Linked DNA regions of Homo sapiens. The protein of the gene in region 1 purifies or fractionates together with the protein of each later gene. This does not show direct contact. Each region holds a gene or a part of one and is shown in the gene's direction. Other genes may lie near its edges.

Region 1 (5,354 bases):
TTGTGTCTGCTTGGAGCCCCAGGCAAGCCATCCACATTTCCATGGCACAGGGGTGCAGTCGATGAGCTGCATTAGTCCTTCGCTGGGCTGTGTTTCTATTAGTGGATCCTCTGAGGCTGGTGCTGTGCCTGAGATCATTAAGTCAGATGCGCTGAAACTTTGTCAAACAAAAGTGCTTAGGGCACAGCCTGAGGCTCTGTCTGCTTCTCAAGGAATTGCCCATCAGTCTCTGCCAGGCGTGGGTGCTCATCACTGACACCTGTGTCTCTTCACAAGGGGCTGTTGTAGCAGGAGGGATGAGGTTTTTTTTGTTTTTGTTTTTGTTTTTTTTGTTTTGAAGACAGAGTCTTACTCTGTCACCCAGGCTGGAGTGCAGTGGCTTGATCTTGACTCACTGCAACCTCCACCTCCTGGGTTCAAGTGATTCTCCTGCCTCAGCCTCCTGAGTAGCTGGGACTACAGGCACCCGCCACCACACCCGGCTAATTTTTTGTATTTTTTTTATTTTATGTATTTATTTGAGATGGAGTTTTGCTCTTGTCACTGAGGCTGGAATGTAGTGGCATGACCTCTTCTCGCTGTAACCTCTGCCCACTGGGTTCAAGCGATTCTCCTGCCTCAGCCTCCCGAGTAGCTGGGATTACAGGTACCCACGACCATGCCCAGCTAATTTTTGTATGTGTAGTAGAGACGGGGTTTCACCATGTTGGCCAGACTAGTCGCAAATGCCTGACCTCGAGTGATGTCCCTACCTCAGCCTCCCAAAGTACTGGGATTACAGCCATGAGCCACCATGCCCTGCCTGAAAGATTAGTTTTTATTTTATTTATTTTTTATTTATTTTCTTTTTTGAGATGGAGTCTGTCTCTGTCGCCCAGGCTGGAGTGCAGTTTGCAATCTCGGCTCACTGCAACCTCCACCTCCCGGGTTCAAGCGATCCTCCTGCCTCAGTCTCCTGAGTAGCTGGGATTACAGGCATGCATCACCACGCCTGGCTATTTCTTTTTGTATTTTTAGTAGAGACGGGGTTTCGCCATGTTGGCCAGGCTGGTCTCGAACTCCTGACCTCAAGTGATCCGCCCACCTCAGCCTCCCAAAGTGCTAGGATTACAGGCATGAGCCATCGCACCTGGCCTGAGGGATGAGTTTTTAAATGACTTCCATAGCTGTCATTAGGTTCTGTCAGCCACTGGAACACACTGCTTTGTTCTTTTCCTCCTGCTTGTAAAACGCCAAGGCTATTGCCAATGTAGTATCTTCAGCAAAGGAAGGAGGCAGCTGAGTCAGGAGCCGGAAGTACAGAAAGAAGCCACAGCTCATCATGCCTGATGAAGGGAATTCAGAGCAGATTCCTAATTTTCAAAAATTCCATGCTTTGGCTCTTCATAATGGAAAAATGCAGAATTATAAGTTTAAACTCAAATGGGAGAAGCACCTGTGAATTAATATTTTGTGAAAAACAAAACAGGAAACAATATAATCTACATACTGCATGACGTTTTATGTGTGAAGATGCACATAGAAGAGAATATTGGCCGGGCGCAGTGGCTCACACCTGTAATCCCAGCACTTTGGGAAGTCAAGGTGGGAGGATCACTTAAGCTCAGTTCAAGACCAGCCTGGGCAACATGGTGAAACATCGTCTCTATCCTTTTTTTAGAATAAAATTTAATTTAAAAGAATATTGGGGCCAGGCGTGGTGGCTCATGCCTATAATCCTAACACTTTGGGAGGCCAAAGTGGGGGTATTGCTTGAGCGCAGAAGTTTAAGACCAGCCTGAGTAACATAGCAAGACCCTGTTTCTACAAAAAAAAATATAAAAAATTAGCAGGGTGTAGTGGTTCACACCTATAGTCCCAGCTATTCAGGAGACTGAGACGGGAGGATCGCTTGAGCTTGGGAGGTCAAGGCTGCAGTGAGCTATGATCATACCATTGCACTCTGGCCTGAGCGACAGAGCAAGACTGTCTCAAAATCAATAGTGGAATATTGGAAGGAAATACATCAAAATATTAGCTGTGGGTAATGAAAGTAGGGAATTTTTTTCTTTTCTTTTTTTTTTTTAGACTGAGTCTCGCTCTGTCGCCCAGGCCCAGGCTGGAGTGCAGTGGCACCAACTCGGCTCACTGCAACCTCCGCCTCCCGGGTTCACGCCATTCTCCTACCTCAGCCTCCTGAGTAGCTGGGACTACAGGTGCCCGCCAGCACGCCTGGCTAATTTTTTGTATTTTTAGTAGAGACGGGGGTTTCACCGTGTTAGCCAGGATGGTCTCGATCTCCTGACCTTGTGATCCACCTGCCGCGGCCTCCCAAAGTGCTGGGATTACAGGCATGAGCCACCGCCCCTGGCCAGGAAGTTTTTTCTTTGTTTCCAATGTTTAAGTTTCTGTCAGTGAACATGCATTATGGCTTTCTTTTTTTTTCCACTTTTTATTTTTTTGAGACGGAGTCTTGCTGTGTCACCCAGGCTGGAGTTCAGTGGCGCGATCTCGGCTCACTGCAACTTCCGCCTCTGGGGTGCAAGAGCGATTCTCCTGCCTCAGCCTCCCAAGTAGCTGGGATTACAGGCGTGTGACACCACACCCGGCTAATTTTTTGTATTTTAGTAGAGAGGGGGTTTCATCACGTTGGCCAGGCTGGTCTTGAACTCCTGGCCTCAAGAGATCCACCCGCCTCAGCCTCCCAAAGTGCTGGGATTACAGGAGTGAGCCACCGTGCCTGGCCACCCACTGTGTTTTAACTCAGAATAGACAGTGCACAGGATTGTTGCAACGAAATCCCAGCGCCCCTGCGCCGGGTGGAGGAGCTGGGCAGGAGGAGGACTTTTCCCTCTCCCTGAGCTCGGTGATCCCCGTCTCTCCGCAGGAAAGGCCGAGGGGGACGGCAAGATGCACATCACCCTCTGTGACTTCATCGTGCCCTGGGACACCCTGAGCACCACCCAGAAGAAGAGCCTGAACCACAGGTACCAGATGGGCTGCGAGTGCAAGGTAAGCAGGTCCTGCCTCTGCTGGAGCATCGCCTCCTCCCAGTGTCTCCAGATGGACGGCAGGGATTTTGATCCCTGGCTTTCCAGGACCCGTTAATCCCCGGCTCCTGATCTAAGACCAGGCTCTGGGAAGGTAGAGTCATCCCAAGAGTAAGGCTGTCTGGCTGGGGACAGAGCCTTTGACCCCTGGTCCCTGGAGAGCCCTGAGGCACATCTCTGACAGGGGATGTCTGGAGGCCGGGCGCTGCGGCTCACGCCTGTAATCCCGGCACTTTGGGAGGCCGAGATAGGTGGGTCACTTGAGGTCGGGAGTTGGAAATCAGCCTCACCAACATGGCGAAACCCTGTCTCTACAAAAATACAAAAATTAGCCAGGTGAGGTGGTGCACGCCTGTGATCCCAGCAACTTGGGAGGATGAGGCTTAAGAATTGCTTGAATGTGGGAGGTGGAGGTTGCAGTGAGTTGAGATCACACCACTGCACCCCAGCCTGGGTTGACAGAGTGAGACTCTGTCCCAAAAAAAAAAGAGGGAGATGTCTGGAAGGCTAGGAGATTTGAGAGTAAGAGCATGAATTCAGCTCTGTTACCTGTAGCTTCCAGAAAAAGGAGCTGTATGGGGAGAGAGAATATGGTCCCATGGAGAATTTTCTACAAATGTGCAAGTGCAAACGCCTGTGTGGCTTATGAGAAGGCACTGCAGGCCTTACGCTGTTTCCAACATTCCCGACATTTTCACACCTGGGTTGGTGTCTATGTGGGGTCTGTGTGTTGAGAATACCTGAACACCTGCTCCTCTTAAAATGAGCCCGGAGGTTGTGCCAGGCACAGCTGGAGCAGTGCAGCGCCTAGATGTGGCTGTGGAAGGTGAGATTACCGCCTCCAGGGCTCCCAGGCTGGCTCCTACCCTGTGGGCTCCTAGCACCCTATCCCCACCCTCCCTGCAGGAAGCATGGCTGAGTGCTGGGCACCTCCCACCCTGGGTCACTCCCAGTGAGTCTGGGACCAGGAGACTCTGGTGAGGCTGTGGGGATTGGCCTTCCCTGGGGAGCTGCCTGGGGCTGCCCTCCCTCCTGACGGCCCCCAGCCCCTTCTCCGCATGTTCAAAACAGGAATTCTGAACTCATAGTCTCCAGCCACACGTATGTTAAGCGAAACTCCTCTGTGCCCAGCATGAAATCAAAAGCAAGTTTTTCCTTTTTCTTTCCACGGTGGTGAAGGCGGTCATCCTCTTGTAGCCTAGGGTTCCTTGGCCAAATTGCTAGTTGCCGATGACCTCGGGGCTCGGCTTGCGAGCAACACTGGGCTGGAATCTGTCTCCAGGAAACCCAGGCCCTTTTATTGTTGCTGTGTCCCCCAGAGGGCAGGGCCAAGCTGAGGCCATTCTGTCATGCTCAGGAAGGTAGAAGATGGCCCAAAGGGAAGCACACCTGCAGTAGGAGGGGGGGCAGCGGTGGGCAGGGCACAGCTTCCCTGCAGGTTAGACCCCCTCGCAGGCCAGCTGCCTGCCCCTGCAGGAACCGTGGGTCTCGGGAGAGGCTGCCATCCCTGCACATGACAGGTAGGCACATTGCCGGGTTCTGGACATGCCCCCAGAGCAGCCTCTGCCCACCCCTTCCTGGGTCCCTGACTCCGTCCCCCTCCGTGTGCCCCTCCCCAGATCACGCGCTGCCCCATGATCCCGTGCTACATCTCCTCCCCGGACGAGTGCCTCTGGATGGACTGGGTCACAGAGAAGAACATCAACGGGCACCAGGCCAAGTTCTTCGCCTGCATCAAGAGAAGTGACGGCTCCTGTGCGTGGTACCGCGGCGCGGCGCCCCCCAAGCAGGAGTTTCTCGACATCGAGGACCCATAAGCAGGCCTCCAACGCCCCTGTGGCCAACTGCAAAAAAAGCCTCCAAGGGTTTCGACTGGTCCAGCTCTGACATCCCTTCCTGGAAACAGCATGAATAAAACACTCATCCCATGGGTCCAAATTAATATGATTCTGCTCCCCCCTTCTCCTTTTAGACATGGTTGTGGGTCTGGAGGGAGACGTGGGTCCAAGGTCCTCATCCCATCCTCCCTCTGCCAGGCACTATGTGTCTGGGGCTTCGATCCTTGGGTGCAGGCAGGGCTGGGACACGCGGCTTCCCTCCCAGTCCCTGCCTTGGCACCGTCACAGATGCCAAGCAGGCAGCACTTAGGGATCTCCCAGCTGGGTTAGGGCAGGGCCTGGAAATGTGCATTTTGCAGAAACTTTTGAGGGTCGTTGCAAGACTGTGTAGCAGGCCTACCAGGTCCCTTTCATCTTGAGAGGGACATGGCCCTTGTTTTCTGCAGCTTCCACGCCTCTGCACTCCCTGCCCCTGGCAAGTGCTCCC
Region 2 (4,933 bases), on another chromosome or scaffold:
CAAAACCTATCAGAACTAGAAGATAGCTTGATTCCTAAATCAATCAATGTGAAGGCTTAGGAGGACTTTAAGATGACGCTGAGTGTCTTAGTTTATTTTTTGCTGCTATAGCAGAATACCTGAGACTGGATAATTTATAAAGAACATAAATTTGTTTTTTGTAGTGTTGGAGGATACGAAGTCCAAGATCGAGGCATTTGCATCTGGTGAGGGCTTTCTTGCTGCATCTGTACATGGTAGAGGGCACAAGGGCAAGAGAAAGCAAACTCACTGCTGCAAGCCCTTTTTATTATAGCATTAATTCATTCATGAGGGCAGAGCACTCATGACCTGAACAGCTCCCAATAGGCCTCATATTCCAACACTGTTGCACTAGGGATTAAGTTGCCAGCACATGAATATTGGGGGACACATCCAGACCGTAACACTGAGGCATCTAGTTTGGTTATCTGGGCAGATAATGACGTCTCATTCAAGATTGGAAACAGGATGAAAAGATTTGGGATCCTGCCAAGGAGTGGAGGAATGGATGAGGGAAAACTGATTATTGTTTAGGACTTGTTGAGTTTGAAGTAACTGTGAGACGTCTCTATATAGCTGTCCGTAGGTAATTAGAAATACTAATTAAGAGTCTAAGCTGGGCGTGGTGGCTCATGCCTATAATCCCAGTACTTTGGGAGGCTGAGGCTGGTGGATCACCTGAGGTCAGGAGTTCGAGACCCACCTGGCCAACATGGTGAAACCCTGTCACTACTAAAAATACACAAGTTAGCCAGGTGTGGTGGCGAGCACCTGTAATCCCAGTTACTCAGGAGGCTGAGGCATGAGAATCACTTTAACCCAGATGGCAGAGGTTGCAGTGAGCCAAGATTGCGTCACTGCACTCCAGCTTGGGTGACAGAGAAAGACTTGGTCTCAAAAAAAAAAAAAAAAAAAACTAGAAAGGCTAAACATTAGAATTTGTGGATTGTTTTTGTGAGTGATTATTGAAATCATGAGATTGCCAAGGGATAGAATGCAAGGTGAGTAGAGATGGTCGCATGTTTTGGAACCTGGCGGGGAGAGCCTCTAAGAAGTAGGCAGAGAATGAGCAATGAGAATGTTTGGGACCAGGAAAGAGTGGGTATAAAGCTGAAAAATTAGTAAGATTTGATGAATTGGCGATCATGGAATTGAAGACAGGATGCACCTAATTCCCCCAGCAGTGAGTTGTGACAGCACATCCAAGGAAGCTTATTAGAGACTCATTGTTAAGGGTTTTTATTTAGGGCTGATCACATTGGGTCCCTGATCTTTGGAACCCTGAGTGTTAGAAGTAATACAGATTTTAGTGGTCTAAGAAATGAATGTGAGAAACTGGAAAAGACTCAAAAAGGTTGGGCAGCAAAGGAAGGAAAAAAGACTTATCTTCTTTTCCTGTCTTGTTTAAATTATTCATAATTTACCATGCAACAATTTACCACTTTAGAAATGTTTTTGTAATTCCTTGTGTATTTTTCTATTTTAGTCTTTGAAGACAGAGAAAGTCTATTTTTCTCCTAATGCTATGATAAACAGTAATGCTTGTTAAATGATTAAGCAATTTCTGGTGCCACTTTATTGCCTTCCAGCAGATGGACCTCTTGATTTTTTTCTTCCTCTCAAGTGCCCATCTTCGTGTTGCTGTTTTTTCCTGTTTCCTCTATATGTATGCCTCTCTTTTCAGCGTTTTCTTATGTATTCAGGACAGTTAAGACTAAAGAGGCATTAGAGTTCAGATAGAACACGGGAAAAATTGGTAGGCATTGGAGGTATGTTACTATTAAACTTCTTGTGTCTTACATTTCTAGAAAGAATATTAAAAAACAACAGTGTGAAGCCATTGTTGGAGCCCAGTGTGGCAATGCAGTTTTAAGAGGAGCCCATGTCTATGCCCCAGGAATTGTGTCAGCATCACAATGTAAGTATAATGTTTAGATTTGTCTTTAAGGTTCTCTAAAATTTATGTGCATTTTCAAATGGAAAATTTATTGATTTGTCACTAAGATATATTCCAAATTTTTCTTGGTCGGGTATTTTTCCAGCTTTGCATTTAGGGTTTTATCCAGTAAGGACTAACAAACTAGTCATCATATAAGGTTTTCTGATGGTTTTTTTTTTTTCCTTCCAAATAAGGATGTATTTGATGATGGTTGTTTTAGTGGATCATTACTGATAGAGTACGTCAATGAACTTCTGTTTTGTTTTCTTGACTGCATTGCCTTAAAACCTCAGAAAGCTGTTGTGTCATTAGTGAGAGAACATCCAGAACCTGGACTCTGAACATTGGGATGAAACTTGATACTCTTAATGTATTCACCCAGTTGGCGACATACCTGTGTTGCATATGCTTAGTAAGTTAGTCACTGTGGTTCAGTGGTACCTTATTGGACTTGAAATCAAGAAACAATTGCTTTCATCTGTAGAAAACGTATTCCGTCTCTGGGCCTCAGTTATGGTGTCCTTGAAATGAATAATTTGATCTGTATCAGAATTGGGTCAACTACTACCTCCTGGCCAAGTCTGGCTCATGTCTGTTTATGTGTGGCCCATAAGCTAAGAATGGTTTTTTCCTTTTTAAAATGTTGTGAAAAGATACACATATAAAGAAGAATATGCCACAGAGAACTTATGTGGCTACAAAGCCTAAAATATTTATTTGCCCTTTACAGGAAAAGTGTGTTGACATCTGATCTACATGATTTTAACAGTTCTCTTAGCTCTAGCTAATAGGCTGTTCGCTATTGTTGTCAGGTAATAGACCAAATAAATTTATGATAGATTAGGTTTAAAAATGTTTTTTGGAAGTGGAATATAATTTCCAATTATAAATAACACTGAGAGTTGTTACAGAAAATAAATGCCTACACAAACTGGATTTAATCAGCCATATAAAGCAACTCTGTACACTGTATACTGTAAAAGGTATTCTAAGTGTATACACACACGTATATATGTGTGCCTATATGTGTGTGTATATATATATATATATATATATGAATGACTATATATGCTTATCATTAAAGTCTGCCTTAATCGTGCTGTCATATCAAAATAGCAAATACAAACAGGGTTATGGGATTTAGAAATATTTCTTTGAAGGATTTTAGGGTACATTTTTGAACAGTCCTTTTGAAGGAAACTTAGAACTTTGAGGTTTGAGCTGAGATGTCAAGATTTATAAGAAATCTTTTAAGGCTTGGGGGAAATAATTTGGCTCAGCTTGAGATTTCCAGTTGAGGGTAGGATGTTTTGAAGCTATTTTATTTCTTTGTTTTCACTGAAAAAGATTCTTTAGTGAGTTTTATTGTTATGGAATATTTTAAAGTAAAAAGTCAGATTTTCTATTAAAGATTGAGGTAATGAGCAAGTTTGAACTGCTTCATGCCCACTATTGATGCCTCTAGAGATCACCGATCTAGCTCAAATAATTTTCACGATTCTTCTGCCAAAGTATAAATCAGTGTAATCTGATTTTCTTCTTTCTCTAGTTATGAAAGCTGGAGATGTTATTTCTGTATACTCTGATATTAAAGGAAAATGTAAGAAAGGAGCCAAAGAATTTGATGGAACAAAAGTATTTCTTGGAAATGGGATTTCTGAACTAAGCCGCAAAGAAATCTTCAGTGGATTACCTGAACTGAAGTATGTCATCAGGTGCTTTGGGGAAATCAGCATCCTTTTTGTGGGTCAATGAAAATTAAAAATAATGTAAAATGTATCTAGTTGCATTATATGAAATTTTTTTTTTTGGTATAAATCCAACTGGAAAAAAATTGTTTAAACCCATATTTCCATGATGTTTGGTCAAAAAGGGTAACTGATCAAATTAAAGAGCCTCATTAAGCAACCAGTTACATTTTAATTGTCAAATAATTTTACTTGTCCTTCTGAATTTTATTTTTTTCAAAATATTTTGCATCTTTGAAAAACAGTGCATTATGATGGAGAAAGAATTAGATGATCTATCCAGATCATTTTTAACGTTCTTATTTGTCAGAAAAAGTTTGATTTTAATATAAATTAAACATATTTTTTAATTAAAAATAAATTTTACCAGAAACCTAGCACTCACATGAATATTTGTGTTTAAAAATGAATGTTTAGGTTTGTTCAAACTAAATTAAAATATAGTCTGTTCTAAATCATTCCTGGTTGCTAGTGGCCCTAAATAAATTGGTGGAAAAATCCAGGCTCTTATTTTACTTAGTTTTTTCAGGCTTTTTGAGTTCTGTGGACAGCTCCATTACTCCAAAGTTCATGGCTGACATAGACATGCTGAAAGCTGTGAATTTCTCCCTTTAGAATTGGACGATATCCCTAATTGGTGGAACAGTTTTTCATGTTGCAACAGTTTGGGTTTGTAATTGAAATTCATTCGTTCTTCTGAAGAAGTTGACTGTTGGATTCCCTAGATCTAGGTAGCAGCACTTTCCAAATGGCCAAGAACAAAGATTTTATTCTTTTTAGAAGGCTTCATGAATATAAAGATTATGTGCATATATCTGCTGTGTTTATCTTTGGACCTGTAATTGGTAATTGATATTTTGACTGCCTCCATTAGTTCATTGTTAATGGTATACTTTTCATTCTTTTAGGTTATTTGATGTTGTTCCAGTTATCGTGCTGAATAATGTTTTCTGAACAATGTTCTGAATAATTTTTTGTTGGTGGAAGTTAGGAGGCAACCAACTTTCAGCCACCCTTTGGCCGGGCGTGGTGGCTCACTCCTGTAATTCCAGCACTTTGAGAGGCCAAGGTGGGCGGATCACTTGAGGTCAGGAGTTCGAGACCAGCCTGGCCAACACGGTGAAAGCCCATCTATACTAAAAATACAGAAATAAGCTAGGTGTGGTGGTAGGTGCTTGTAATCGCAGCTACTCAGGATGCTGAGGCAGGAGAATCGCTTGAACCC

The links. Proteins that work in one complex are often made in the same cells at the same time.
Region 2: the proteins of TIMP2 (region 1) and NSUN6 fractionate together in Homo sapiens (co-fractionation; one large-scale study listed by BioGRID). This does not show direct contact.

What each region holds. Positions count from the first base shown.
Region 1 is NC_000017.11:78,855,159-78,860,512, reverse strand, and holds part of TIMP2 (metalloproteinase inhibitor 2 precursor), read left to right. Parts: intron 1-2,866; coding exon 2,867-2,991; intron 2,992-4,648; coding exon 4,649-4,846; 3' UTR 4,847-5,354. UniProt on the Homo sapiens protein: Complexes with metalloproteinases (such as collagenases) and irreversibly inactivates them by binding to their catalytic zinc cofactor. Known to act on MMP-1, MMP-2, MMP-3, MMP-7, MMP-8, MMP-9, MMP-10, MMP-13, MMP-14, MMP-15, MMP-16 and MMP-19.
Region 2 is NC_000010.11:18,613,190-18,618,122, reverse strand, and holds part of NSUN6 (tRNA (cytosine(72)-C(5))-methyltransferase NSUN6), read left to right. Parts: intron 1-1,829; coding exon 1,830-1,939; intron 1,940-3,509; coding exon 3,510-3,663; coding exon of another isoform or gene 3,664-3,675; intron 3,676-4,933. UniProt on the Homo sapiens protein: S-adenosyl-L-methionine-dependent methyltransferase that specifically methylates the C5 position of cytosine 72 in tRNA(Thr)(TGT) and tRNA(Cys)(GCA). In vitro also methylates tRNA(Thr)(AGT).